Linked DNA regions of Homo sapiens. The protein of the gene in region 2 purifies or fractionates together with the protein of the main gene of each other region. This does not show direct contact. Each region holds a gene or a part of one and is shown on either strand. Other genes may lie near its edges.

Region 1 (2,312 bases), on a different chromosome or scaffold from region 2:
TGACTGAGAAACTGAATGTTTAATTCTCACACTTCACTAACATGTATTAATAGTGATGCCTTCATCTGTACGTTTGAATTTTCACTTTTCTCCGATTAAAGTGAGAAACAGGTCAGATGCTATCCATGAGAAATAGGAAAGAATGGTGCAGTAAAGAGACTCACATTTAGTGTTCTCTAGCCCAGGAAACATAAGATGTTCTTAATCCACCCACAATTTCCCTTCCCTTGCAATCATCCAGAGCATGTTTTTTGGAAAACTAACCTATTCTTCCATCAGTAGAGGTTGCTTGGTGCCTATTTGATCACTTTCACAAGAAAATCTGTGCGCTCTCTTCACACGCAGCAATAGTTATTTCCAACTGTCAGTCAATCAAAATGGACACGCGAATTGTCCACACTATTCATAGAATCCCCCTGGAACTCATTCATGTGTATCCAGAGTACAGGAATTCCAGAACACAACCCTCTTTATAGGCCAGGAAACAGGCAGCAACAACGATAAGTTCATCCAGCTTTATTGAAACCTATTACAGAAGACAATCCGAATAAAACCACTGTCTCCTGTAGAAATCTGAGTTATGTTGTTTTACTACAAAAGAATATAAAACACATTAAATTACAGTGTGAAGGAATTTTAAAAATGAACAGTGTATCCTCATTAAATGTTTGCAAAGTTTCTTCCTAAGCACTTACAACTAGTTACAGCTCTTTTAAAAATTCAGATTTCTACACTCAGTTTAACGGGAGAGACATTCACACTTAGGTACTTCAGCCCCAACTTTCACGGACTATTGGAAATTAGAAGGTACTTTGTTGCTAAGTGAAAAAAATGCACATTTTTTCATATCAGGGAAAATTATACTGGACTTAACAGTTTTAAATGAGCAATAACTCAGATATATTAGAGAGAAATCACCTCTTGCCTTACAAATACCAAATAAATTCCCTAGACTCCCCTCCCTGTAGAGACCATCAGCTCACTGTGAAGGCTTGAGCCTCAGTAGGTAAAATTTGAGGAAAAAAATGAGAAATGGCTAAAAGAGGCATCTGCTGCAGGAACCTTCTGTGACTGTCAAACATTCCCTCTTCAAGCTCCCTTTTAAAACCCAGTCCATTCCCAACATCACTGAAAATGAAAAGAATAAACTTGCTGGTCCTCATGTCAAGGCAGTGTTTTCATTGTCTCTTGATATTTTATCCCATTTCCTATTGACAACATCTCCCCTACCCCTGAAATTATTTAGAGGTTCCCTCTATGACAAACCCTTGCTTTTTTTTAGCTTTAGGTATAACACTGACATCTTTTGAAAAACGTGTTAGTAAATACTCAAGTTCTGGCCTCATTTCCTGATGTATGAAGCATGGAAGCAGTGCTGTCCTGTGGAGATTGCTTTTGCACCAACTACACAGGAAGGTCCTTGACCTCTAAGCATGCCTTTAGAGGTTAGAATTCACAGAAAACAAATTCAATTGTCAAACACCTGTTCCTAATTTTGTGCAAAGCAATACAACATAGCACAACTCCATTTGTTGTTTTTCGTTGTGCTTTGTAGAGACGGGGTCTTGCTATGTTGCCCAGTCTAGTCTCAAACTCCTGGCCTCAAGCTATCCTTCCTCCTCAGCCTCCCAAAGTGTTGGGATTACACGTGTGAGCCACCATGCCTGGCCCCACCTCCATTTATTAGGCTATCTCATGCAAACTTAAAATTAAAAAAATAATCCCAGGCCCCAATGTAGATCATGAACCTACTTAAGACTCATTATGGTAAAAACAAATTCTTACATTTTTCTGTCTTTCTAAAAGTGTAGTGGTTATGGCTAAAGACTAATCAACATTACAGATCCAATCTGTTGTCAAAGAACACAATTTCTGACCTGGTAACAAAATTGTTCTGATAATCTGACACATGGCCAAGATTCTCAGACAAGAATTAAAGGCATTCTTTTGGATTCTGTCCTTTAATAACTTTCAGAGGCTTCCAGCTCAGTAAAGACACTGATCAAATCTTGGTAAAAATGGGCTCGTGTGCAGACTTTAGGTGATGTTCTTCAGCAAATTCAACAGGCCAAAGGAGTGTTTGTCACTGACAGAGCTCTCACCACTCACTGGTTCTGTGCCAGTTTTCCATAGCCTCCTCTCCCAGCATCGTAGTCCTGCCGATACTCATCCCGAACCTTTAATGGAAAGAATCCAGAGTTACAGTATGGAAAAGAATGGTGTAACAAATATGCCTCCCACAAACATGTTAGACAAACAGTGAAACCTGTTCAGATGCCACAATGTGAACATTTCAAGCAGGACATATGCAC
Region 2 (3,500 bases):
AATTGTGGCTTTCAGCAAGTCAATATACCATCTGTAAAATAAAGATAAAATATTACTCCTTGGGGTGCAAAGGTTTTGCAGGCTGGTAAAAGCTATTCAAGGCCTGGCACCATGGTTCATGCCTGTAATCCAGCACTTTTGGAGACCGAGACAGGAGGACTGCTTAAGGCCAGAAGTTCAAGACCAGCCTGGGCAACAGAGCAAGACACTGTCTCTATAAAAAAAATAAGTTTAGGCCAGGCACAGTGGCTCACACCTGTAATCCCAGCACTCTGGGAAGCCGAGGCGGGTGGATCACCTGAGGTCGGGAGTTCAAGACCAGCCTGACCAACATGGAGAAACCCCGTCTCTACTAAAAATACAAAATTAGCCGGGCGTGGTGGTGCACGCCTGTAATCCCAGCTACTCGGGAGGCTGAGGCAGGAGAATTGCTTGAACCTGAGAGGCGGAGGTTGTGGTGAACCGAGATTGTGCCATTGCACTAGAGCGTGGGCAACAAGTGTGAAACTGTCTTAAAAAAATAATAATAATAATAATAAAATAAGTTTAGGCTAGACACAGTGGCTCACACCTGTAGTCGCAGCACTTTGGAAGGCCGAGGCAGCCACATCACTTGAGGTCAGGAGTTCGAGACTAGCCTGGCCAACATAGTGAAACGCTGTCTCTACTAAAAATACAAAAACTAGCCAGGCGTGGTGGCGGGCGCCTGTAATCCCAGCTTCTCAAGAGGCTGAGGCAGGAGAATCGCTTCAGCCCAGGAGGCAGACGTTGCAGTGAACCGAGATGGCGCCACTTCACTCTGGCTTGGGAAACAGAGGAAGACTCAAAAAAAAAAAAAAAAAAAAGTTTAAAAAAATGTTCAGGAAGAGAGCTCTCCCCCACCCCTTTCCACCCACCTTTTTCTTCTTGGATGCCGTCTCCCAGCATGTAGTCACTACAAGTGCTTGGACATAAGTAGAGTGCCTGCCGAAGCTCCAAGTTGAGAAACCACACTTGAAGAAATGTGTTGACATAACAAGTGGCTCCAAGGTTAGTCAGGCCCACAAATGAGTTCTACAAAAATACAAAATTCATAATTATAAAACCCATTTTCCTTTAAACAACCAATTTCTAAGCATTATTCTTAAATTTTCAGATTAAAAATGTGTAAGACCGTCACAACCAACATGGTATAGCCACCTTAAGTTTCTCTTGGCTGGAGGTGGGGCATAATTTTCATGAAAGCCCCATTTTGGGTTGACCACAGGAGTGAAAAAGACTTCGGACGGCATCACTGCTCATCTCTAGCATATCGTCTTCTCCAGCCACTTAAATCTAAAATTAGAACAGTGGATTCTAGAAAAGATCGGTTTTGAACAAGCGTATATAGGTTTTATGTTTTCTGTATTTCTAAACTGCCAGCATTCAGCAGAATGACAAAGTAAAACTTATGCAGAAAACTTCCTTTATATTCTAGAGATTTTAAAGATTGGCGGTGGTAGAGGGAACTGGCTGCAACTTTTTCCAAAGATAAGGTTGGGAATTCCTGACCTTACAAAGAATTATTATTTTATTAAAATATCTATATATAACAAACTTGGATATTTCGTGAATGCTAAGATTTATGTCTAGAAAATTTAATGTATATTTTTAAAAAGCAAAATTATATATAAAATACAAGCCCTAGAAAGCAAAGTGCTATCATCATGAGTTTGTTCCCTTGAATTACCATCTCCTTTAAAGAGGCGTTAAGATTTCAAAATAAAACATGCAATGTTAAAGCAAACATAGAATCAGCATTCAAACTAAAACTATTATTTAAAGGCTTACTGAATTACGCAGCTGCCTGTTTTAAAGCATATCATTAAGAAGTGTTCCAATTCAAGTGGCTTAGAGTCTTAAGTTCTACTGCTTATCTTAAAGCTGCACAGGTTACCTGAAATCAGTAGAGTTTTCTGATCACAGGCCCAAAACAAAAGCAAAAACAAAAACAAAAAACAGCATATAGCAATCGCTTAAAAAATGATGGTTTACCTTTTTTCTCCTCTCACAGTTGGGATCATCGATGTTATGAAAACTATTTTCATCTATTTCTCCTAACCAAATATGCTCACCAATACCAACCAAGCAATTCGGATTTCCTTTGCAGTTTCGTCTAAGGGGAAAAAAAAAACCTTTAATTTTTAAAAGACCATAGTTTCATGAGAGACAAACAAATTAAAACTAAAATGAGATACCACTTCTCATCTATAAATTAGCAAAACTGAGAAAGTATAAGACACTCAGTTTGTGAGGGTGTGGAGAAGAAAGCATGCATATACTGCTGGTAGAAATGCAGTCACTAACAAAACTACATAGACAACTACCTTTAGACCTAGCAATCTCATTTCTGAGGATTTACTGTTCCTTAGGCTATACCTCCAACAATGCAAAATCTCACTCATAAGGTTATTCATTACAGCACTGTCTGTTAATTGCAAAATATTGGAAGCCACCCAAATGCCCAAAAATAGACAATATGGTACATCTATATGGCAGAGTACTATGCAACTGTAAAACACACACACACACACACACACACACACACACACACACAGCATGAAAAAGATATCTATGAACAGATATAAGGTAATTTATAAATCCAGGACACATTATTAAGTAAAAAAAGCAAAATGCAAAGGAGTATCTCTAGTATACTGTTATGTGTAAGAAATATATAAGGAAAATATACATGTACATATTTCTGCTCATTTTGTACAAAAAGAAATACAGAAAGGAAAAACAAGAGACTAATGAAATTGGTTACCTACAGAGCATGAGTGGGAATAAGGTTAAAAGAAAATACACCTTTTCGGCCGGACACAGTGGCTCACACCTGCAATCCCAGCACTTTGGGAGGCTGAGGCAGGCGGATAACAAGGTCAGGAGTTCGAGACCAGCCTGAAACCCTGTCTCTACTAAAAATACAAAAATTAGCCGGGCGTGGCGGTGCGGGCCTGTAATCCCAGCTACTTGGGAGGTTGTGGCAGAAGAATCCCTTGAACCCAGGACACGGAGGTTGCAGGGAGCCGAGATTACACCACTGCACTCTGGCCTGGGCGACAGAGCAAGACTCTGTCTTGGAAAAAATGAATGAATGAATGAATGAATGAATGAATGAATGAAAAGGAAATGTACCTTTTCATATAATGAACAATTTGGGACCATGTGACTGTTTCTCACACTACTTCACGCATGCACACAAACAAAAATAAATCAACTGGCTAGGCGTGGTGGTTCACGCCTGTAATCCTAGCCCTTTGGGAGGCCAAGGCAGGAGGATCACTTGAGGTTAGGAGTTTTGAGACCAGCCTGGCCAACATGGTGAAACCCTGTCTCTACTAGAAATACAAAAATTAGCCAGGTGTGGTGGTACACGTTTGTAACTCCAGCTACAGGCTGAAGACTGGAGGCTGATGCAGGAGAATTGCTTGAACCCAGGAGGCGGAGGTTGCAGTGAGCCAAGATCGTGCCACTGCACT
Region 3 (3,500 bases), on a different chromosome or scaffold from region 2:
CGAAAATAGCACATTTCTTACACAAACACACACTCCTAACTCATAACACAGCAGGAACTACAGGGCAAACAAAACAAAACAAAACAAAAAAAAACCTCAGTGAAGCACCTTGGGCTTTAAGTGTGAAAGAAAATACTTTTCAGGGACAGGTACACGGCAAAATCCACAGCCTCAGGTGTTTGATTGAATGAAAGTGGATAAACACAGTAGGGGCTGGAGGGAAGGCAGAGCACAGTGAAATTTAGTTCTTCCTGGAGGAATCAACCTGCATGCATTCCTACAAGCACATGCTTTCATACTTGCCTCCACATACTTGTCTTCCCCTTCCCTCTCCTCTGCCTCAATCCTCCCCCAACTTTCTGCAGGGCCATTGACCCTGATGTGGACTTACTCTGCAGGAACTGAGAAACGTCTTCCAGCTGGGGAATGTTATCTTCATGGAAGCCACAGTACTTTTCAAGAAGTGGAAAAATGTGATTGTACTCATAGCAAGCATGGGTTTTATACAAGGACTTCAGAGTCTTGAACACTGTGCCCCATGTTTTCTTTTCTTCCTCCATGTATTCCACTCGAGGGATGGGCTGCCCACTAGAATACAGGCACAAAATAGGTGTCTCAAGCAGGGCAGGGGCACAGCAGAACGCAGGTTAGGTTAGCAGAGGGAGTCGGGGACCAGAACCTGTGAGCTGCCATCACTTGCTACAGTGAATTTCATACATTATTTGAAAGAGAAAAATTCCACATCTTGATATAGGAAACATTGTTGTTTTGATTTCCCACATGAAAGGGTGATTTGGTTAAGCAGTGATACAGGCTACAATGAGGATTTGCTCTCACTTTCGGGAAATCACTTGGTTTTTCTACTCTTCTAATTCTCTAATTGCTTACCTGGGGTAGAAATTCACTTACCTGCACGGGCCAGTCAGGTATCACAAAGCTGTAAAGTTGCAGAGATTGGCAATAAGGAGAATGGGGGCTGGCAGGAGAATATATTCCCTTTCTAAACCAGGGCATCTAAGTTAAAGCAACACAGTGTATTTTTATGGTGTTAGCTAAAGCAATTAAACCAGTGGGCTAAACTGGATTTAATATGTAGGCCACGAATCTGAGATCCCCTTTGTTTGGTAGGCATGCACTTATTGGGTTTGATATTTCTGCTCCTGGGAAGTTATAAAGGTATTTAAATACATACTAATTAAGATTCCACATTGTATACATATATCAAAACATCATGTTGTACACCATATTTTATATACAATTATATAATTATATACAATTATATAATTGTATATAATTAAAAATTATATACAATTTTTATTTGTCAATTAGAAAACTAAATAAATAAGTTCTAGATCAAGGATAATAAATAAATATTGGAACAAAGGAGAGAAAATAAATATATAAATCCATGCTAAGGTATAAAATGCCTCATACCTTCTCTTCACTGAGCTTGTTCAAGTACATATGCCAGGCCGCATAGATCCTGAATCTCTTGGGGAAGGGAAGGCTCACATATCTGGATTCTAGTAAGCTCCCCAGGTGACTCTGATGCAAACTATAGTTTAAAAGTCGTTAGTTTTAAAAGTCCGGGAAGCTCAAACTGGGTGGAGCCCACCACAGCTCAAGGAGGCCTGCCTGCCTCTGTAGACTCCACCTCTGGGGGCAGTGCATAGCCAAACAAAAGGCAGCAGAAACCTCTGCAGACTTAAATGTCCCTGTCTGACAGCTTTGAAGAGAGTAGTGGTTCTCCCAGCATGGAGTTTGAGATCTGAGAACGTACAGACTGCCTTCTCAAGTGAGTCCCTGACCCCCGAGTAGCCTAACTGGGAGGCACCCCCCAGCAGGGGCAGACTGACACCGCACACGGCCGGGTACCCCTCTGAGACAAAGCTTCCAGAGGAATGATCAGGCAGCAACATTTGGTGTTCAGAAATATTTGCTGTTCTGCAGCCTCCGCTGCTGACACCCAGGCAAACAGGGTCTGGAGTGGACCTCCAGCCAACTCCAACAGATCTGCAGCTGAGGGTCCTGACTGTTAGAAGGAAAACTAACAAACAAAAAGGACATCCACACCAAAACCCCATCTGTGTGTCACCATCATCAAAGACCAAAGGTAGATAAAACCACAAAGATGGGGAAAAAACAGAGCAGAAAAGCTGAAAATTCTAAAAATCAGAGCACCTCTCCCCGTCCAAAGGAACACAGCTCCTCGCCAGCAATGGAACAAAGCTGGACAGAGAATGACTTTGATGAGAGAAGAAGGCTTCAGACGATAAAACTTCTCTGAGCTAAAGGAGGAAGTTCGAACCCATTGCAAAGAAGCTAAAAACCTTGAAAAAAGATTAGATGAATGGCTAACTAGAATAAACAATGTAGAGAAGTCCTTAAATGACCTGATGGAGCTGAAAACCATGGCACGAGAACTACGTGACAAATGCACAAGCTTCAGTAGCTGATTCAACCAACTGGAAGAAAGGGTATCAGTGATTGAAGATCAAATGAATGAAATGAAGTGAGAAGTTTAGAGAAAAAAGAGTAAAAAGAAATGAACAAAGCCTCCAAGAAATATGGTACTATGTGAAAAGACCAAATCTACATCTGATCGGTGTACCTGAAAGTGACGGGGAGAATGGAACCAAGTTGGAAAACACTCTGAAGGATACTATCCAGGAGAACTTCCCCAACCTAGCAAGGCAGGCCAACATTCAAATTCAGGAAATACAGAGAATGCCACAAAGATACTCCTCGAGAAGAGCAACTCCAAGACACATAATTGTCAGATTCGCCAAAGTTGAAATGAAGGAAAAAAATGTTAAGGGCAGCCAGAGAGAAAGGTCAGGTTACCCACAAAGGGAAGCCCATCAGACTAACAGCTGATCTCTCGGCAGAAACTCTACCAGCCAGAAGAGAGTGGGGGCCAATATTCAACATTCTTAAAGAAAAGGAATTTCAACTCAGAATTTCATATCCAGACAAACTAAGCTTCATAAGTGAAGGAGAAATAAAATCCTTTACAGACAAGCAAATGCTGAGAGATTTTGTCACCACCATGCCTGCCCTACAAGAGCTCCTGAAGGAAGCACTAAACATGGAAAGGAACAACTGGTACCAGCCACTGCAAAAACATGCCAAATTGTAAAGACCATTGATTCCGGGAAGAAACTGCATCAACTAACGAGCAAAATAACCAGCTAACATCATAATGACAGGATCAAATTCACACATAACAATATTAACCTTAAATGTAAATGGGGCTAAATGCTCCAATTAAAAGACACAGACTGGCAAATTGGATAAAGAGTCAAGACGTATCAGTGTGCTGTATTCAGGAGACCCATCTCACGTGCAGAGACACACATAGGCCCAAAATAAAGGGATGGAGGAAGATCTATCAAGCAAATGGAAAATGAAAAAAGGCAGGGGTTGCAATCCTAGTCTCTGATAAAACAGACTTTAAACCAACAATGATAAAAAGAGACAAAGAAGGTCACTACACAATG
Region 4 (3,500 bases), on a different chromosome or scaffold from region 2:
AAAAGCTGGTAAAAGATGTATTTGTAAGCCATATTCTATCACCATCTCCTTTTTGGTGGAGATATTAACAATTCAATTATATCCAAGAAAATGCATCAGAAAATTCTATTTATAATATTCTATTGTGGTTTTTTTTTAATCTACTGAAATTCTGTCTTCAAGATTTAGCTTTTCCAAACTCAACATATGCCACATAAAAAAGACATGAAAACAGAAATTTTAAAAACAAACAGCATTTTACTTCAAAGCATCAGTATCCTGGACTCTGGAACTGCGATAAGAAACTTTTACTTGATTCTCATCTTGATTAAAGCCATAATTAGACAGTAGATGACAAAGCAAGGCCACAGCTAACCCATAAGGCAACTTGGTGAAAGTGAGGGAAAAAGCCTGTGTGTGCCATAAGCTACGTGCACAATGCACTGTCATAAAAGACAGGTGCAGACTTCGTCACACGAGGAGCACCAACTTTAACTACTAGACACGTCTGTAGATCTCTATTGTCACTTCAGGGCATGGACTGAGAGTCGTATGTTTCTAAAGCCACCTTGTAAGAATTGAACCTTTCCCCTATTAAGGGAACTATCATTTATTCCTACTGTTAGATGTCCACAGGAAAAAAGGTTGATTAACTTACAAATTTAATCAGAAGCCTTTTATATCCTAATTTATTTATCCATTCTAAGGTACATAACTGTGGTCTAGAAAATTAATTTTAAGGAAAAAAGCAAATTGATATCACAATACTTTTTTTTTCAATTTTTTTTTTCAATGTTTTTTTTTGAGACAGAGTTTCGCTGTCAACCAGGCTGGAGTGCAGTGGCGTGATCTCAGCTCACTGCAACCTCCGCCTCCTGGATCCAAGCAATTCTCATGTCTCAGCTTCCCAAGTAGCTGGGATTACAGACATGTACTACCACGCCTGGCTAATCTTTGTATTACCATTATTATTATTATTATTATTTTGAGACAGGGTCTCACTCTATCGCCAGGCTGGAGTGCAGTGGTGCGATCTCGGCTCACTGCAACCTCTGACTCCCTGGTTCAAGCAATTCTCCTGCCTCAGCCTCCTGAGTAGCTGGGATTACAGGTGTGCACCACCACACCCAGCTAATTTTTTTGTATTTTTAGTACAGACAGGTTTTTACCATGTTGGCCAGGATGGTCTCCATCTCCTGACCTCGTGATCCACCTGCTTCAGCCTCCCAAAATGCTGCGATTACAGGCGTGAGCCACCGTGCCCGGCCTATTATTTTTTTAAATAGAGACAGAGTTTCGCCATGTTTGCCAGGCTGGGTAGGAGAATCGCTTGAACCTGGGAGGCGGAGGTTGCAGTGAGCCGAGGTCACACCACTGCACTCCAGCCTGGGCGACAGAGTGAGACTCTGTCTCAAAAAAAGAAAAAAAAAATCATTAAAAAAAAATCCAAAGAAAATTTGGTGTAACACATGGCATTAGTCAATGGTGCCACACAACAAACAACCCCAAAATCTCTGCAACTTACAAAACATTTATTTATTTCTCCCTCATGTTACATGGGGGCTATGAGTCACTTGTGAGTCTATTCTTTGTGTCTTCTCATTCCAGGACCCAGACTGAACGAGAAATCTCTGAAAACCAGGCTGTTCTCATGGTAGAGGGCAGAAGCACAAGACAGACTGAGCCAAACCACACAGATGCATTTGACATTTTCTGCTTCAACAAGGCATATGTTAATATTCCCTAACATCCCATAGGACAAAATAAATCACATGGCCAAATAGAGTGACCAACCTGCTTGGTTTGCCCAGGACTAAGAGGGCTCCCAGGACACAGGACTTTCTGTTTTAAAATCAGGAACATTCCAAACAAACCAGGACAAGTTAACTATCCTACGTGGCCAAACTCCAAGGTCAAAGGGCAGGGAAATGTACTCCACAGAGGGATGGTGGGTAACATTTTGAAGCAAAAATACAATCTACCACAGACTTGAATAAGTCATTCACAAACAAAATCAAAATCAAAGAACTCTAAATTAAAACAATAAGATACCCTCTTTTTGTTTGTTTTATTCTCAGGTTAGTAAAGTTTAAAACACGATATTCAAGGCCTGGTGCAGTGGCTCATGCCTGTTGCAGTGGCTCATGCCTGTAATACCACCACTTTGGGAGGCCGAGGTAGGAGGATTGCTTGAGCCCAGGAGGTCGAGACCAGCCTAAGTAACATGGCGAAATCCCAGCTCTATAAAAAAATTACATAAATTAGCCAGGTGTGGTGGTGCACACCTGTAATCCCAGCTACCCAGGGGACTGAAGCAGGAGGATCACTTGAGCACAGGAGGTGGAGGTTGCATTGAGCCGAGATCTTGGCCACTGCACTCCAGCCTGGGCGATAGAGTGAGACCCTGTCTCAAAAAACAAAAACAGGAAGACAGGATAGCAACAAGGGACACAAACATTTTTTTTTTTTTTGAGATGGAGTCTCACTCTGTCACCCAGGCTGGAGTGCAGTGGCGCAATCTCGGCTCACTGCAAGTTCGCCTCCTGGGTTCACGCCATTCTCCCACCTTAGCCTCCCGAGTAGCTGGGACTACAGGCGCTCGCCACCGCGCCCGGCTAATTTTTGTATTTTTAGTAGAGACGGGGTTTCACCGTGTTAGCCAGGACGGTCTCGATCTCCTGACCTCGTGATCCGCCCGCCTCAGCCTCCCAAAGTGCTAGGATTACAGGCGTGAGCCACCACGCCCGGCAGGACATGAACATTTCTGTTTCTTGATCAGGGGCTGGTTACACAGTGTGTTCATTTAATGAAAATTCATCCAACTGTACACTTATGATTTATGCACTTTTTTGCTTGTATATAAAAAGGTTTTTTTGGGGGTTGGTTTTTTGTTGTTTTTGTTTGTTTGTTTGTTTGTTTGTTTTGAGACAGAGTCTCGCTCTGTCGCCCAGGCTGGAGTGCAATGGCTCGATCTTGGCTCACTGCAACCTCCGCCTGCCAGGTTCAAGTGATTCTCCTGTCTCAGCCTCCTGAGTAGATGGGACTACAGACACGTGCCACCACGCCCAGCTAATGTTTTGTATTTTTAGTAGAGACAGGGTTTCACTGTGTTAGCCAGGATGGTCTCGATCTTCTGACCTCGTGATCCACCTGCCTCGGCCTCCCAAAGTGCTGGGATTACAGGCATGAGCCACCGCACTGGGCCTTATAAAAAGTTTTTTAAAAATAGCATGTAAGGGCTAATGCCATTTTAAAAATAAATCAAATATACTCATACATCAAAATGTCACCATTAATAATAGTTACTCCAGGCAGTGGGAAATGTTAAGAGAAACACACTACCTTTATGTTAAAAATAAAACAGAATCTGTAGTGCAAAAGATACAATGTTTCCAAAAGGGATGATTAATTTGGAATGTCATCAGAGGTATGAACAATGTATCAATGACCATGAGAAAATTCACATATTCATAGCATACGATCTAGTCACTCTAAATCTGGAACTACATCCTAAAGAAATT
Region 5 (4,008 bases), on a different chromosome or scaffold from region 2:
TAGGTAAGATGGAGGGATACGGCAGTAAATCTAATATGAAACTGAACGCTTAAAGGAAAGCTATTTCAATCCAAAACATTTATAAGTTTTGTATTCACCTAATAACTACTGAATGCTAATTACACACCAGACAGTAGTCTAAGATTTCCTTAATATACACCCATTATTTTCCCAATTTTACAGTTGAGGAAATGGAAGCCCTGAGTTAAGTAACTTACCCAATATCATACAGCTGGTAAGTGGCAGAGGCAGAATTCAAAGCCAGACATTCTGCTCCAGAGTTCTCCTCACCGCTATACTATGATGCCCACTCTCCAATACACCGAAATAGGACTTCCATCTGCACAACTCTACTCCAGTGAAACTATTTTGCTAAGGTTACCAATGACTTCCACTTTGCTAAATCTAAGGGCTACCTATTTGCCTCCATTTTTTCATGCATTCTGCAGCATTTCATAAACTCCTCTCTTTTGCCATACACTTGTTTTTTAATGACATAAAGCCCAGTTTTCCTCCTGCCTCAGTACTAGGCCCTCTTCTCTTCCCTACCTACACACTTTTTCTATGAAATTTCCCACAATGTCATCGTCTTAAATACTATCTGCATGACTCCAGATTTCTCCAGTCCTGTCCTGAGTTTTAGACTCATATATTCAATGATCTGCTATCACACTTAGCTGTATCCCACAGACTTCATACTTACTGTATTTATTATTATCAAAACTAGCCATCCACTTTCCTTCTCCCCTTAACCTGTTCTCTGCCTTCTCTAATATCACCCATTCTGTTGCTTGGGTTATCTAAGGCACCACCCTTGATTTCCCTTTCCCTCATCTCCCGCATTTAATCCATTAATTTTACTTATGAAATGTATTTGGATCTGCCTGTCTCCACCATCACTCTAATGCAAACTAGCCACATCTCTGCCTACAACACACTTCTGAATAATCTTCTTACTTCCATTCTTGCCCTTTCAGTCTCTACAAAATAGGCAGAGTTAAAACAAAATTAAATCAGTCCTTGTCTGCTTTAAATCATCTCACGTCTTCCCATACATGATGTGGCCCCTACCTACTTGTCCAACTTGTTGCCTTTATATCCTCTCCCTCATCACAAGGCTCTTTCCAGCCACAGTGGCCTTTCTCTTCCTGAAACACACCACAATCACTTCTGCTACAGGGCCTTTCATTTGCTCTTCCTTTTGCAAGGAATGTTCTTTTCCAAGACTTTGACACACATGGTCCCTTCTCTTTAGATGTTACTCCAATGTCACCTTCTCTGAGAGTCCTTCCTTGACCAATGTGAAATAGCCCCCCTCATAATCACTTTTACATGATTCTCTATTATTACAATAGTCACAACTCTATTAATATCTGGATTTATTTATGTCTTGTCGATTTTAGAATTTAAAAGCTCTATCCCCAAAGCCTCCCGTAGTATACAGTAGGTACCTAATAACTTTATTAAATACGTGAATTTTCCCCATTGCATTATTGTAAATCAACCAATTCTGATTAAGCACTTTGGTCCATGTCATATTTTGTATTAACAAGTCGTCAAAACACTCCTTAAATTTTCCAATCTAAGACTATTTCAGCACTCTAACCGCAGCCCCCAACACAAAATCTATCTATAGCATCCCACTTAAAACTGCTAAATATTCCATATGGATGAAGATTCAATTTTCTTCCTCCTCTCCAAGCTAACGAACGCGTAGGCGGGAAAGGGGAATTTTACTGGCCACCTCAGCACCTGTTACATCTTCAATCAGTGAAGAGAGGTGCAGATGAGCCAGACAGCACATGGGAGACGTGGCCTTGCTTTCAGGAATTATATTTAGGTGAAACGTGAGTGATTTAAGCTAGAACTGCCCGAATCCCCAATAAAGGCCGTCTACTTCATTTAGAAAAACAAGGTAAAATAATCTGTAGGAAGTAAAATACAGTCGGTTTCACTAAAATAAACCGATTTTGAGGCCCCCGGAAAATATTGCGGGTGGGGGTTGGAGACGGTCTATATATAACGGGAAAACGAGAGCAGCTCAGCAATAAAATAAAGCTCGACTCAGGCTCTCGGGGGTATCCTGAATCTGGAAGCGAGGTGGACGAGGAGGAGAAGCCACAGAACCCTGGGACCTCCGTTCACCGCTTCGGCCTCCACCGCAGGCACTTGGGGAAACTGCACAGATCTCTGGGTCCGCCTATCTCCCACTGCCATCCCTGCAAAGAGATATCCCCCGGATACTCACATGGGCTCGAGAGTCTTGCTGAGCCAGGACTTGAGTGCCTCGAAGTTTTCAATGATCATTTTAGAAACCATCCACAGCGGCCCTAAGGCCCGTCACACTCCTCCGCCCGCCCAGGTCGCGGCCGCTACAGCCGCCGCTGCCCCCGCCCCCTCCTCCGCGCGCCGCCCGCGTGGGCCGCGGTGGGAGGCGCCGGTGGCAGGTTCCCGCGGGCCCCGGTCGGCGAACAGCTCTGCAAGGACCGCCGCAGGCCACAAGTGCACGGGGTGCCAGGAGCTCCCCGTCCCCGGCCCCCAGCCCGGGCTGAAACAGCAACGGTTTGCCCGGGCCCTCCCCCTTCCCTCTTCCCCAGCAAATCTACCCAGACCGGAAGCGCGACACGCGCTTAGACCCGAGCCTTCTCTCAGCCTCGGGACCAGGTGCTTGTTGGCTACGTCGAAAAGGCAAAAGTAAAGAAAGCGAAGGCGAAGGGCAGCTCAATGGGAACGATTCAGGGGGTCTTCCCGGCTCCCAGCACCCCCAAGAAGATGGCTGCCGGTAAATCTCGCGAGAATTGATGAAGTCTCGCGGTGGCTCCCGGAGCCTGCTGGGAGAGACGTAAGGTCGGCGGAGAATGCGCGGGTCGAGTGCTGTAGTTCGATTTTTGCGTGTGTGCGTTGCTTGCGGCCTTTGTGCCTTTTTATTCTTTGCTTACCTTTATGATATAAAGACCTTATTTCTTACAAGGAGGAAAAGACCGCTGACTTCAGAAACAGCGGGAACCCCAGCTCGTCCCCGGTAAGACGGCCGTGGCCTGTCAGCTGGAACGGTCCTGCCGGATGGATCGCTCTTTGAGAGCGTACACTCCCGCGTGCGCGACACCAGGCGGCCCGTAGGTTCCAGGTGCCGAGCACACTACCTCCTCAGTTTACCTAAGTGCCCTACCAGTATCATATTCTGTGTATGCTGTGATGTGAACGAGGTTTGTAAACACAGGCTGGTCTAATGGAGCCCAATGAGACCGCCAGAGGATTAGTGTCTTGTCCAACAGTACTTGACTTGCTGGTAGAGCCCTAATGACTGAGGGCTGCCCACAAGGGAAAGGTGAGAGAACCTTCACGTCTCTCAGGTAGTTTCCAGCCTGCACTTTCCCCCAGCTAAAGATAAGTTTTGTTATTTTTAAAATTCTCTTTATTTAGAGCAAATTCAGCCCTATCTCAGATCGGGAAATTATATAGTATCAAAAGAGAGAGTCTTCATATTAGCAACCCAAATAAATAAACTATTTTCCTGGGTGATCAAATAAGTTTGATTCCTGCTTGAGTTCTATTTAGATACTAGGTGGAATTTTACAAAGGGTCTACGTTCCATGAACTGTAATGGAATGAAAATATTCACAATCTAAAGACATTTTCAGTAAGTAGATCAATAAAAGCTCTTTATGAGAGACACCGATAGGCTAAATTGTTCTTAGGAACTCTTGAGTTTATAATTTGCTAGAGTGAAGTGTCTTTAAGGATTAGGTGGAAAGATTATGAACTACAAAGCAAGACATTTGTTTTAAAATACAGCATATAGAGTAGAATACAAATTAGAATCCAGCTACTGAATAACCAGGGTGTTGATTAAAGTGATTTAGCTGAGTGAAATAAACCAGACATGAAAGGACAAATATTATGATTCCACTTACATTAAGTACCTAGAGTAGTCAAAACTCCTAGAGACAGAAGGTGGAATGGTAGCAAGAGCAGGGGTGGAGAGGGTGCCCAGGAGAAGGGGAAATG
Region 6 (3,500 bases), on a different chromosome or scaffold from region 2:
CCCTCATGCCAGTTTATCAGAACTCTGATTTTAATGACAGGTTAGTTATTCACAACAAAATGACACAGTTGACTAGTGAAATAAATTCAGTTTTTTTGTTGTTGTTGTTTTAGCAAGATTGATTGGAAGGATTATTATAGTAGTCTGTTAAAATACTTTTTCTTTCATCCGTTTCTTTAAAAATAAGGGAAAGATTCAGCCAATCACAAGTCTCCTGACCGACGCTGTCTCTCTCACTTAATCCAGAGCCAGTAAAAGGATAATTTGATTAAACTGAGACCCTAATTTATTTGGCTTTAGTTCTGGATCAACCTCTCCTTAATAGAGTGCTGTCGTCTCCAATTGTTTGATGAAAATTAAAGTGACATAAATACCATGGGACTTTTTCAATCTGATTAGTCAGCGAAGGCACATCAATACCACCCCGGCCATCAGACTTTGGCGTCCTTCCTTTCACCCGCCTCGCTAACGACTGACAACCGCTCCTTGAAGGACGAGCACCCACGCTGCTGCAGAGACCCCCACACTTAGCCCATCATCCCTGCTCAATGGGGCCTGTTGACAAGGTGCCCATACCTTTCTCCATTGCTGTTCTCTGGACAAAGCTAAATATTGTTTTATTAGCAATCAATGGCTGTTAATCCAAAACGATTTCACAAATCCTCTGAGCCTTCAAGCTCATTATAAATACGCGTTTTTCCAAGCCCACTAAATTTTGAATTTCACTTCCGTCACCCTGATGGCGTGGCCTTTTAGCTGGTGAATGAAACTCAAAAGCAAAAGGGTCAACAGCTTTCAAAGACTTAAAAATCAAACTGAAGCATGGGTCCTGATGACTGACTAGGAGGTATCACACACCAATTTTCTCTGGAGTGAGGAAGATTCTATTTACAGATGAAAGGAGCGATCTCGAAAATCTTATTCATGCCCTTTATTGTTCTCCAATAGCTCGATTAAAAAAACAACAGAAAAACTAACTAAAGCAAGCTATTTCATATCTCAGAAACACAATTTTTAGAAAAACTGTACTTAGTTTCCCTAACCATGTGGACAGACATCTCTTCTGAGAGTATTAAGTCCACATGTCATTCTGTCTTTATGATTCCATAGCCAATGTGTCCTGCTCTAAGCTAGGAATCTGAGTCCCTTCTAGAAAAAGGAATTAATTAAATAAGTTCCCACTATAAAGTCCTTTCCCAGCACCCTCTCAAAAAGAATAAACACAGTATACTACACTCAGTAGAGATATCCTCATAGGCTCCACAACATCAAAGGCAGCAAATTCTCCAACGACTCTTAAGTCTTACTAAAATCCAAAGCTACTAAGTATTTCTTCTAATCTTCTTTACCAGTGCCTGAAAACTAAAAACAACATTCTGGCTTCAGAACAACTCATCCTAACAAGGTATAGTATTTCAGTGCTGACTGATAGGACAAGTTAGCACGTCTAAACGACTCAAGAAGGTCATGGGGTCAGGCACGGTGGTCTGTGGTCCCAGCTACTCAGGAGGCTGAAGCAGGAAGATCGCTTGATCCCAGGAATTTGAGTCTAGCCTTGGCAACACAGTGAGACCCTGTCTCTAAAAAATTAATTAATTTATAAAAAAGTAAATCATGGGGATCTTTTTCCAAGAAGGGTGGGTCTATCATTCTGTAAAGGTCCCATTCAGCCCTATTTCTGCTTCAGGTTCTTTCTCCTTCACTCCCTTTCAATCCAACCCTATAAATTAGACTAGAAAACAAAGATGCTGACAAACACCAAATGGTATAATCTGAGGCACCTTTTGTTTGTGTCCTGGAGGGCATCTCCATATTTGATGTTCAATGGTAGGGGAAAGATCTTGGTTAGAGAAGTTCTGGATAGATAAATAAAATCAAGCAGATACTGAGGATTCCTGGGTCAATCTATATGTTCTTGAAAAAGTTTTCCAATTGGATATTCTTTCTTCTGTGTTTCATAGAGTCAAAGAATTTTTCAGGCCGGGTGCGATGGCTCATGGTAATCCCAGCACTTTGGGAGGCCGAGGCAAGCAGATCACTTGAACCCAGGAGTTCAAGACCAGCCTGGGTGGGAAGCATGGCAAAACCCTGTCTCTACAAAAAAAAATACAAAAATTAGCCAGCCATGGTGGCGCATGCCTGTGGTCCCAGCTACTTGGGAGGCTGAGGTGGGAGGATTGCTTGAGCTGGGTAGGTGGAGGCTGCAGTGACCGAAATCGCACTCCTGCAGTGAGCCGAAATCACACAACTGCACTCCAGCCTGGGCGATGGAATGAGACTCTGTCTCAAAAAAACAGAAAAATGTTTAAGAATTTTGCAGTAGGAAGGTGGGTTCACTGGTCACCTCCTTCTGACAGACAAGGAGGTAGTGGCCTCCAAAAGCTAACCAGCAAACTCCAGGCTCCATAGCTACTTGGCAACCAAACAGGGCCTGTGATCTGGGTCCCTTGAACCAGCTAGGACCTCGCCACTTCACAAGCCCCCTCCTAGACATCAAATAAACAACAGAGATTAGAACAAGGGTGGGCAAACTTTTCCTGTAAAGGATCAGACAGTAACTATTTTTAGCTTTGCAGGCCTCTGTTGCAACTATATAGCTCTACCATTATGTTAATAGCACAAAAGCAGCCACAGATAATACATAAAGTAATAAGCATGGCTGTGTCCCAATACCACTTTATGTATAAAGACTAAAATTTGAAGTTTTTATATTTTCACATGGTATGACATTATTCTTTTGAATTTTTTAACCAGTTAAAAATATAGGCCGGGTGCGGTGGCTCACGCCTGTAATCCCAGCACTTTGGGAGGCCAAGACGGGCAGATCACGAGGTCAGGAGATCGAGACCATCCTGGCTAACACGGTAAAACCCCATCTCTACTAAAAATACAAAAAATTAGCTGGGCATGGTGGTGGGCACCTGTAGTCCCAGCTACTTGGGAGGCTGAGGCAGGAGAATGGCGTGAACCCAGGAGGCGGAGCTTGCAGTGAGCCGAGATTGCGCCACTGCACTCTAGCCTGGGCAACTGAGCGAGACTCCGTCTCAAAAAAAAAATATATACATAAAGACATTCTTAGCTCACAGGGTGTACAAAAACAGGTGGCAGGCTGTATTGCAAACCTTTGAATTAGAAGAGCAGATCATTAGAATCAGAAGCCATAAGGTTCTAATGAGATGGGCCATGAGATGCCTAATAAATGTCACAGTGGCCACACTAATCACATTAATGACATCATCCACTCAACAGAAAACAAGAACCTGGACTTCTGGAGCCTACTACGACCAGGTGAGGAAACAAATGAAAAGGTGAAACCACATCGAACCACCTTGAATTCACTAATCAAATCCCTCTTTTGATACAAATAAGGGGAAATGAACTATTCTCACTGGCATCTCTAAGTTTTTGTGCTTCACTCCAGGACAATACAGATCTGGTTTTCAAAGGCTATTTCAATCTTCACTAGCAAACAAGTTACTCACTAAAGCAAGGCAAAGGTT
Region 7 (4,183 bases), on a different chromosome or scaffold from region 2:
CTCACAGTAAAAATAAAACAGGAAGTGTTTGTTTTAGTCTATATTTAAAAACCAAACTTGTATTGCATGCAATAACCAAACTAGTGATGTAGAGTTCTGCTATGAGAGCCTTTTCCAAATGATCCTGTAATCTCAAGCCATTTCATTATATAATGATCATTCAATGCTTTCAAATCTCCTCTTTCAGAACATCTTATGTCTCTGAGCCTGAGAACTGAATAATCACATACAAGTCAAAATAACACACTGTACCTGTTGGAGATGCTGTGTGCGACGGATCCCCATAGTGCCCATAATGAGGTGGAGAAAGGCCTATTCCAGGCTGAGGCTGAGAATACGGAGGTGTAGCCACGTAACCTTGTTGACTCATTATGAAAATATCATTCCATAGGATAATTCTACAAAAGAAGTCTGCAACAGAGAAACAAGAAACATGTTACCAAGACAGTTTTAGTTACGTAAAGCTATTAAAAATATAAACACTGTTATTACATGTTTATGATGGTTTGAGGAAAAGTACAGATATCAGGTACATGAGAAATCTTTGTATTATACAATATATCATTATCCCCTAAAAAGGGCCTAACCATAGCTCTCTGAAACTCAGTAAATCACTTCAATAATCCTGGGCAAATTCTCAAGCATGAGACCTGAATAATAACTCGCAACCACTTTTTTAATGGAAGCCTGAAGCATCTCACAGATAGTCTCTCATAGTGTTCCTATGATTTTGTGCTTTTGGTTTCCATGGTCACATTTCAGCACAGAGCACACCATGCCATTCAATTGACTGACCACCATAACTGCCAGTAGCCTGCAATCAGATGTTTTATGACTTACGTCTTTTTAGTGCTCATCTAATTAATTATTTTAATCTAGTCATTAGGACAAAGAGAAATCATAGTCCAACAAACATAGCAACAGACAACGTTGATAATGGGCTTATTTTATGAGTCATAATTTGACCGAGCCAGGTGGTCACTATAACCACTTGAGTGTTGTCAGTGGTTTTTCAAAGGCGACAGAATTTCTTTCTAATTTAAATCATATCACATCTCTAAGAACATATGCACCTATATTTAGGGGACTAAGGAAAAAAAGTGTAATTTTGTAAGTGTGTAGGCACACACATCACAAATATAACAGACTCATCTTGATTTTTTTTAAATCTTGATTCTAATCAGAACCCAAATTTGCTTTAAATTTTCTATTTTTTCCAGGTTTTAACAAAATAAGAGATATTTCATAGGACTGATGATTTAAAAAAAAAAATTAAATACGACAGAAAATGCTTTGAATGCAAGAGAAGTGGGTTTCCATTCTATGTCTGCCATACTTAACTGTGTGACATGGAATGAGCTGAAGAACCTCTCTAAGCCTCAGTTCCTTCTTTTAGAAAATGAAGCCTTTCCAGATTTCCACTGATTCTACAATTTATCTCCAGTTTATTTGCCCCATACAAGCATATTCTTCCTTTTGTTCTTTTATTTGCTACAATTTAAGATAAGAGATCAGTGATACCTGCTAAGACTTAGAATCTGTCTATATTCAAGAAATAACATTTCAAATTAAAAATTTGAAGCCTAAAATTTGTGATTTGATTTTGTTTCCATATTAAACTATAAGTTTCCAAAATAAAAGCAACCATGTAAAAATATTATGAGATCATTTCCTTCTCCTGGGAAGGGGAGAACTGAAAAAGAGGAGAGAGGCAGGCAAAGGCCTTCTGGTCCACTTTGTTTCTGACAACCCCTTTTTCCTCCTCCCACTTAGCAGAGAGAGACGTGGCAGCCTGAGCGCTGGTCAAGCTCATCCAACCAAGAGCACTTAGGAAGTCGGCACGAACACACCTAAGTAGCAGCCTGTTGCTGAGTGACAGAAAAGAGAGGCTGAGATGGTCACTCCAAAGAACAGGAAGCAGCCAGTTCCCTCTGAACTGGTCCTCAGAGGAATCAGCTTCCTCACGCAACCCAGTTTGCCACGTCAAACTTCCTCACACAGAGCACCAAGTTAAAGAAACCTGACTCAGCTTCAAGCGGCGACACGGCAGAAAGCCACTTGGTATAAGCAGGCCTAGGATCAAAATCTGGGGAGCCCCAACCCCAGAACGGCCCCCTGGCTCACTGTCACCCAGCAACTCTAGCCAAGGTGCACTTCTAACCCTGGAACAAGTTCGTATTTGGCCAGATCAGTTTCACTATTCGGATGTCCCGAGGCTTCAAGATATAGTTGCCATTTTTACCATGAATATTTCTAACATTTCCTTCCTTCAAAAAAGGAAATTAAGTTGATAAGGAGATGAGAAAACCGCTGGCAATGACACTCGAATGGTGGCCACTGAGGATCCTAACAAGGCAGTTCCTGCATCCCAAGGCAAAAGGTGGGGGCGGGTAAAAAATGCCCACGCCCACCTCCTGCTCCCCCATCCCGCCGGCCCCACTATTAAACTGCACTAGAAGGCTAAAGAACAAAGAATGAGTTCTCCTCCCGCCGCCACTGCCTCAGGTGAGCACCCGGCCTCCCGCCGCGTCCCCGGGCCGGGCGCCGCAACCCGCTCCGCTGTGCCTGGGCAGGGCTGTCCCGCATGAAGGCGTCCGCGGGTGGGAGGCTTTACCTGTTCCCGCTCCCGCACCCCGCGGGCTTCCGAGCGCTGGCGGCTCTGCGCCTAGTGCCGGCAGCCCTCGGTGGCCGGGCTCCCGCTGCGGTCGCTTCTCCCGCCGCGCCTCTTCCCCGGCCGGCGTCCCCTTAGCCTGGACTCACGCTCGGAGTTGCAGCTGGGCTGGGAACTGCCACGTCAAACCCTTTCTCGGCTGCGCGCCCCCAGCGCCGGGCTTGGACCAGCCGCCGCGCTCCCGCCTGCGCACGCGCACAGCCACCGGCCGCCGCGGGGCGGGGCCACCGGGCTGAGCCTGCGAGCGGCCGAGCGACCTCCCCCTTTTCGCTTTTTCCCTTTTTCCGGTTTTTTGTTTTTTGGTTTTCTTTTTCCCGTCTTTTCTTTCCCCTCCCCCTACAGGTCAAAGCCTTTAACGTCGTGGCTAAATCAGAACCGTATTTTCTCGGCGCAGCCCCGCAGGAAGGAGGGGAGCGCGTTCATTCATTCTTCCATCAACAGGTTGCAGTTTCAGCTCTTCATTCATTACGTATTACTTAAATAACTAATAGTTCAGGTACTGCACTACCGTTACATACGGGAAAGTACACGATCTGGACCTAGGGGAGATTACCGTTTAAAGGCGAATCTGGCACGTGTACACGCACATTTGATGACGTACCCGTGCAATGCACTACAGAGGAAGGAACGCCCAAAGCAGCCTGGCAACGTGTAACGCGGGAGGAGTGGGGGGTGGGGGAGATGTCCCAAAGGAAAAGTGTGGGAAGTGGGGTTTCCATTGATATTGGGGTTGTTAGCGTTGTGTATACTCCTTCTTCCGCATATTCCTTGTTTGTGAAGTAGGATGGCTGATCCCAGCCCCAAACAGGAATCTCTGCATGGAAAAGCACCCAGCGTTTAGCTCACCGTCCTGTGAGAAACAGCTCAGAAATAAAGGCAACCTATATGAGATCTGGAGCTTACCTCTCTATCTCACCCTAAAATCAGGACCATCTGGCTGGTTTCCTATCATCTTTCACTGCTAAATAGAAAGACATTCAGCCACTCCCAGGTTTGGTATAGCTACCACTTTGCTCAAACTTACAAAGTAAAAACCAGCCCGGTGTTGTTGTTTTTAACATGCACTTTCTTCCCGGCTACAAGAAAGCCACTTGACAAATACCTTTACTGATGAACTGCCTAGGTAAAAACGTACATGGGGATGTTGCTACTCCCGAAATGCTACATGAATTGTGCAGGAATTTTAAGTCATTTTAGCAGTAAAGATATATGGTCCATTTATCCCACTCTTAAAAGTTTTTAAGGCATGGGGCAAGGCACAGTGGCTCACACCTGTTATCCCAGCACTTTGGGAGGCCAAGCAGGGAGGATTGCTTGAGGCCAGGAGGCAGTGAGCTATGATCACACCACTGCGTTCCAGCGTGGGCAACAGAGTGAGACCCTGTCTCAAGAAAAAGAAAAAAAGATTTTAAGGTAAGATATCTGGCCTACATCCAGCTTCAACACTGATCAGGTTTGAAAACCCACATTGAAATTTTTGTTTTAAATTGTTTCTTGTATTCTCAATGTGAT

Evidence for each region.
Region 1: the proteins of USP48 (region 2) and NCBP2 purify together in Homo sapiens (affinity purification with mass spectrometry; 2 studies listed by BioGRID, with this or other methods). This does not show direct contact.
Region 3: the proteins of USP48 (region 2) and PAH purify together in Homo sapiens (affinity purification with mass spectrometry, with the first as the bait; one large-scale study listed by BioGRID). This does not show direct contact.
Region 4: the proteins of USP48 (region 2) and CTPS2 fractionate together in Homo sapiens (co-fractionation; one large-scale study listed by BioGRID). This does not show direct contact.
Region 5: the proteins of USP48 (region 2) and RBM26 purify together in Homo sapiens (affinity purification with mass spectrometry, with the first as the bait; one large-scale study listed by BioGRID). This does not show direct contact.
Region 6: the proteins of USP48 (region 2) and HTATIP2 fractionate together in Homo sapiens (co-fractionation; one large-scale study listed by BioGRID). This does not show direct contact.
Region 7: the proteins of USP48 (region 2) and SEC24D purify together in Homo sapiens (affinity purification with mass spectrometry; 2 studies listed by BioGRID, with this or other methods). This does not show direct contact.

Annotation. Positions count from the first base shown.
Region 1 is NC_000003.12:196,934,906-196,937,217, forward strand, and holds the end of NCBP2 (nuclear cap-binding protein subunit 2), read right to left. Parts: intron 2,178-2,312; coding exon 2,106-2,177; 3' UTR 501-2,105; downstream 1-500. UniProt on the Homo sapiens protein: Component of the cap-binding complex (CBC), which binds co-transcriptionally to the 5' cap of pre-mRNAs and is involved in various processes such as pre-mRNA splicing, translation regulation, nonsense-mediated mRNA decay, RNA-mediated gene silencing (RNAi) by microRNAs (miRNAs) and mRNA export.
Region 2 is NC_000001.11:21,755,650-21,759,149, forward strand, and holds part of USP48 (ubiquitin carboxyl-terminal hydrolase 48), read right to left. Parts: intron 2,135-3,500; coding exon 2,014-2,134; intron 1,056-2,013; coding exon of another isoform or gene 1,054-1,055; coding exon 897-1,053; intron 1-896.
Region 3 is NC_000012.12:102,854,745-102,858,244, forward strand, and holds part of PAH (phenylalanine-4-hydroxylase), read right to left. Parts: intron 589-3,500; coding exon 392-588; intron 58-391; coding exon of another isoform or gene 41-57; exon of another isoform or gene 1-40. UniProt on the Homo sapiens protein: Catalyzes the hydroxylation of L-phenylalanine to L-tyrosine.
Region 4 is NC_000023.11:16,699,170-16,702,669, forward strand, and holds part of CTPS2 (CTP synthase 2), read right to left. Parts: intron 1-3,500. UniProt on the Homo sapiens protein: Catalyzes the ATP-dependent amination of UTP to CTP with either L-glutamine or ammonia as the source of nitrogen. Constitutes the rate-limiting enzyme in the synthesis of cytosine nucleotides.
Region 5 is NC_000013.11:79,403,456-79,407,463, forward strand, and holds the start of RBM26 (RNA-binding protein 26), read right to left. Parts: upstream 2,801-4,008; 5' UTR 2,320-2,800; coding exon 2,249-2,319; intron 1,312-2,248; exon of another isoform or gene 1-1,311. UniProt on the Homo sapiens protein: May be involved in the turnover of nuclear polyadenylated (pA+) RNA.
Region 6 is NC_000011.10:20,370,214-20,373,713, reverse strand, and holds part of HTATIP2 (protein HTATIP2), read right to left. Parts: intron 1-3,500. UniProt on the Homo sapiens protein: Represses translation by preventing reactivation of elongation factor eEF1A. May also inhibit nuclear import by competing with nuclear import substrates for binding to a subset of nuclear transport receptors.
Region 7 is NC_000004.12:118,833,327-118,837,509, forward strand, and holds the start of SEC24D (protein transport protein Sec24D), read right to left. Parts: upstream 2,801-4,183; 5' UTR 2,615-2,800; intron 412-2,614; 5' UTR 371-411; coding exon 253-370; intron 1-252. UniProt on the Homo sapiens protein: Component of the coat protein complex II (COPII) which promotes the formation of transport vesicles from the endoplasmic reticulum (ER).